Regions from separate parts of the Homo sapiens genome. Here region 1 is linked to region 2. Evidence: fine-mapped expression QTL. A gene starts in region 2. The other region holds a variant in brackets. All regions are shown on one strand. Distances are from middle to middle.

Region 1 (2,914 bases), 56 kb before region 2:
AGTGGCCAAGATGGTGCCACTGGTGCCACTGCACTTCAGCCTGGGTGATGAAGTAAGACTCCATCTCAAAAAAAAAAAAAAAGATAAATAAAGGTGAAAAATGGATGAGAGTTTAATAAAAGGGCTATTTACAAGCAGCGAGGAATGGTGCAGTACCCTAGAGTTAGTAACAGTGGGAGCCCTTCCCAGCCTTAGGCCCGAAGGTCCAAGGGGAGGCAGCAAGCACATTCATGAGTCACTTAAACACAGGGATATATGCTGAGAAACACGCTGTTAGGCGACCTTGTCGTCATGCAAACATCATGGAGTGTACTTCATGCTCCAGCCTACTACACACCCAGACTATGGCAGAGCCTATTGCTCCTAGGCTGCAAACCGGTACAACGTGTTACTGTACTGAATACTGCAGGCAATAGTAGCACAATAGAAAGTGTGTACCTAAACATATCTAAACATAGAAAAAGTACAGTAAAAATACAGTTTTGTTTGTTTTTTTGTTTGTTTTGAGACAGAGTCTCACTCTGTCGCCCAGGCTGGAGTACAGTGGCACCATCTCTACTCACTGCAACCTCCACCTCCTGGGTTCAAGTGATTCTCCTGCCTCAGCCTCCCGAGTAGCTGGGATTATAGGCATGCACCACCACGACTGGCTAATTTTTGTATTTTTAGTAAAGACGGGTTTTCACCATGTTGACCAGGCTGGTCTTGAATTCCTGACCTCAGGTGATCCACCCGCCATGGCCTCCCAAAGTGCTGGGATTACAGGCGTGAGCCACCACGCTTGGCCATAAACATATATAAACACAGAAAAAGTACAGTACAAATACAGTATTATAATCTTATGGGACCACCATTAGATTGCAGATGACAGAAACGGCATTATGCGGTACATGACTTACTATACAGGAATCTGAAGAGGCTGGGCTTGGTGGCTCATGCCTATAATCCCAGCACTTTGGAAGGCTGAGGCAGGGGATCACTTGAGCCCAGCCTGGGCAACATGACAAAATACGGTCTCCACACACACA[C/A]AAAAAAATCAGGTGTGATGGTGGCTTATGCCTGTAATCCCAGCTACTCAGGAGGCTGAGGTGGGAGAATTGCTTGAGCTTGGAAAGCGGAGGTTGCAGAGAGCCAAGATCATGCCACTGCACTCCAGCCTGAGCAACAGAGTGAGACTCTGACTTAAAAAAAAAAAAAGAAAGAACGAATCTAAAGAGGTGAGTCCACAGAAAGGCCCACCTGGTAAGACAGGCATGACTACATGTGCAGAACCAGCAGTTAACGGCAGAGTGGAGACTGGGGTGCAGCTCTCATGATCTTCAATCCAGTGTGCTCCCTGCTGTGTTAGTTCTCTCACGATGTCATAACAAAGGACCACAAACTGGTGGCTTTGAAACAACAGAATTATAGTGTTTCTCAGTTCCAAAGACTGGAAGGCCAAAGTCAAGGCGTCAGCAGGACTGATTCCTTTCAGGGGACTCAGAGAGAGCATCCGTTCCATGCCTTTCTTCTGGCGCCTGGTGCTTGCTGGCGATCCGTGGTCTTCCTTGGCTTATATCCACATAAGCCAAATTATCTGCCTGTGTTGTCACAGGGTCATCTTCTCTGTTTTTGTGTTTCTTCTTCTTTTCTTATGGGGACACCAGTCTTTTTGGTTTAGTGTGCATCTCACTCCAGTATGAGCTAATCTTTTTTTTTTTTTTTTTTTTTTTGAGACAGGGTCTCACTATCGCCAGGCTGGAGTGCAGTAGTAGTGGTGTGATCTTAGCTCACTGCAGCCCTTGCCTCCTGGGCTCCAGTGATCCTCCCACCTCAGCTTCCCAAGAAGCTGGGACTATAGGCATGCACCACCACGCCTGGCTAATTTTTAACATTTTTTGTACAAACAAGGTCTCACTATATTGCCCAGGCTGGTCTCAAACTCCTGGACTCAAGTGATCCTCCCACTTCGGCCTTCCAAAGTGCTGGGATTATAGGTGTGAGCCACAGCACCTGGCCTAATTTTAACTAATTACTTTTTTTTTTTTGACACAGAGTTTTGCTTTTGTCATCCAGGATGGAGTGCAGTGGTGCAATTTCGGCTCACTACAACCTCTGCCTCCTGGGTTCATGTGATTCTTCTGTCTCAGCCTCCCTAGTAGCTGGGATTACAGGCGCCTGCCACCATGCCAAGCTAAGCCACCATGCCAAGCTAATTTTTCTATTTTTAGTAGAGAGGAGTTTCATCATGTTGGCCAGGCTGGTCTCGAACTCCTGACCTCAGGTGATCTGCCCGCCTCGGCCTCTCAAAGTGCTGGGATTACAGGCATGAGCCATCGCACCCAGCCAACTAATTACATTTTCAACAACCCTATTTCCAAATGAGGCCACACTGTGAGGTTCTAGGAAGGACATCAATTTGGGGGGACACTATTGAACCCAGCACACCTTCTTCAAGTTGGCAAGGCATCACTTTAGCAAAATGTCTCTGTCAATTTCCCTTCTCTTTCAGGGCCTCTTTGATTTGATTGGAATCCCCCAGTCCTGCTACATTATATATTCAGAGTACATGACTAGTAGCTCACTCACAGGAAAGAGCAAGCACTACCCCAATGAGATACTAGCAGACACCTACCAGACTGGCAACAATACTAAAGTATCATTACAGCCTAACTGTTGGTGAGGACATGGAGTAACAGGAATGGTCATATGCTGCTGGGGACAATGTAAATTGGTACAATCACTTTGGGATAAAGTTTGGCAGTATCAAGTGAAGCTGAAGGTATACATACCCTATCGCCCTCCTGACTTACATATTCTATAAAAATATATGCCCATTGAGCCGGGCGTGGTGGCTCACACCTGTAATCCCAGCATTTTGGGAGGCTGAGAATGGTGGATCCCTTGAGCCCAGGAATTCGAGACCAGCCTGGGC
Region 2 (2,500 bases):
GGGAAGGGAATTCCGGGCAGAGGGAAGGGCGCAGGCAACAGCTAGGAGGCGCAGATGCAGGCTGGGTGTGGAGGGTGCGAGTAGGCTGGAGTACACCAGGGAGTTCCCAGCAGGCCACTAGGAGCCACCCAGGATGCCCGGCAACCTCATGAGTCAGACAAGCAGGGCTGTGTCTATCTGGAAGTTTCCAGCCAAGCTAGGTAAAACACATGGACACAGGTAACTATGCTGTAAAGCAAAATCCCCAAGTCCTACAATCGTGTCCCAGTGGTGTCCCTGGGCCACCACTTTCCAGAAGCAAAGTTATTTTCTCACCCCGTTGTTAAGCACACAGAATAGAGAAGGTACGGCCGCAATCCACCCAAGTGCCCACTGATTAGATAGGAACCCCCGAGGTGAGGCTGGAAGCTGGGGCCAGGAGCTCCACTCTTCCCAGGAGTCAGAGAAGTGAGTTCATTTGCTGGCTTTTTAGTTCCTAATAAGTCCCTGGGGCTTTTCGGGATGCTTAAGCCAAGGGCGTGGGGCCGAGAGCGACACTAGGATAACACTAGGCAAGGCTGAGCAACCCAGGCTACCAACAGCACGGACTTGAACCGGGTCGCATGCCGGAGCGGACGGGATGAGGTGCACCGCAGAACTGGGGACTCCTGGTGCCGGGACGCGGCGGGCTGGGGCGCCCCACTCTCGGGGCAAGTCTGCAATGCCCGGTGCCCACAAAAAGGACACATCCATCTTTGTCACCCCGAGGCCTGGCACGGCCTGACGGCCCAGGCTCGGTAAAAGTCGGGCGGAGAGAGTGGAAGCGCAGAGAAACCCGGGGAGGGCGCTTAAGAACGGGCCAGGGCGCCCGGCTGGGCTGCCCTGCCTCTCGGGCGCCGGCCAGGCGTCCCGGCCGCCCCACCACGCCGTCGGAGCGCGCCGAAGCTCAGCCCGGGGCGGGCGGGCCAGGAGAGGGCCCGGGGCCCCTGCCGCCGCGGCGCCCCCTCCTGCGCACCCGGAGGGAGAGGCCGCGCGCGCCCGCCCGCTCTTTCTGCGCGCGGCCCTCCCCGCTGCCCCCGCCCTCGCGCCCTGTTTGGAGGGAGCCACCCTGACGTCGGAGCCGCTCCCCCGCGCCGCGCGCCCGCCCGGGGCCGCAGACAGCGCGCAGCGCAGCCCAGCCGAGCGTCGCGGGGCCGCCCCCCGCCCTGCCGGCCGCCTCGCCGAGCCTCCTGGGGCGCCCGGGCCCGCGACCCCCGCACCCAGCTCCGCAGGACCGGCGGGCGCGCGCGGTAAGTCCCGCCCGGGTCGGCACGCGGGCGCCCGGCTTCCAGAGGCTTCGGCCGCGGGGGCAGTGCCGCGCCCCCAGCCCGGAGCTGCGTCCCCCGGCGCGTCCGGCGGCCGCGGGCACCGGGTGGAGGCGCCGCCGCCGAGCTCAGGAGCCCTGGGGGACCTGGCGGGCGCCTCCGGACGCCGGCGCTGGGGACGTGGGCGCGGCACGGGGTGGCCGGGGGGCACCGCCGCGTCCGGAGCCCGTCCCCAGACTCGCCCCAGGGTTCCGTTTCTGGATCGGAGTTTCCGCGGCCGGGGGAGAGAGGGAGCGAGGGAGGGAGATGCGTGGCCGGGCGGGCCGGGCTCGCATGTCCCCCGGCCGTGCCCGGGCCTCGCCGCGCCGCGCCTCTCGGCTCTGGACGTTTCCGCCTCCCGCGGCCCCCTCTGCTTCGGTCCCCACGTCCGTGTGTCTGTCTCTCCGTCGCTCCGTTTCCGCCGCTCACTTTCCCCTGGTCTGCCCGTCTCTTTCCGTTCCCCGCCTGCCTCCGTGTTCGGCTGCCCGCGTTTGTGTCTCTGCCTCTGGCTTTTCTCTCCCTCTCTCTGTCTCTGCGCTGCCCTCTGTGGGGGTCTCGCCCTGTGTCTGCGCCTCTCCCTGATCCCCCGCCCTCCGATCCAGACAATCCCCCAGTGTCGGAGGCTCGCCTTCCCCCAGCGGGGTTCACGAATAGTTTCCTAGACCGGGTGCGGCAAACCCTCCCCCTGCCTCCCGCCGGCCCCGAGGCCTGGCCCGGGTCATCTCCCTGGAATTGAGTCTGGGGCAGGGAGAGCCAGCCTTTCCGGGGGCTCAGTTTTCTTAAGAATTCCACCCCCGCGAGGCCGGCTGGACGACAGGCCCTGCTGCGGGCCACCTGCCCGGCCCGCTCCCAGGGCGGGGCGATTCTGATCGTTTACAAGCGGCGGCAAAGGGGGCAGCCGCCTGCCTTGGCGTGGCCGGAGGTTGGCGGGCATCAAGGGAGAAAGCCACACTTCCAGGCTTTCGGAGGCCCTCGCTCCCCAAGCTGGACGCCACCAGCCTGTAACTAGGGGCACCCCAGGAAAACAGAGGTCAGGGCTGGAGGCCAAAGACCGGGCGCTGGCGGGGAAGCAATTTGTCAACAAGGAGCCCCTCACCCTTTGTTACTGCGGAATGGGGCCTCCCTAGACTCCCCCAGATGCTGGGGCTGCTTGGGCGTGGTTTGCCTTGAGTTGGGGC

Evidence for each region. PIP is the estimated chance that this variant, and not a neighbour inherited with it, causes the effect.
Region 1: its variant is fine-mapped to the expression of NBL1 in whole blood (Lepik 2017, PIP 0.95).

Annotation. Positions count from the first base shown.
Region 1 is chr1:19,586,561-19,589,474 of GRCh38, forward strand. No RefSeq gene overlaps it. Among named protein-coding and RNA genes, the nearest start is that of MICOS10-DT, 8.8 kb to the right of the region's middle. The variant C/A (reference allele first, on the strand shown) is at 1,029.
Region 2 is chr1:19,643,179-19,645,678 of GRCh38, forward strand. It overlaps NBL1 (NBL1, DAN family BMP antagonist), which reads left to right and starts at 1,133. Exons shown (of 4, transcript NM_005380.8): 1 at 1,133-1,268. All of the region lies in intron 1 of MICOS10-NBL1 (MICOS10-NBL1 readthrough), which reads left to right. RefSeq lists an enhancer at 145-980 and a silencer at 879-1,218.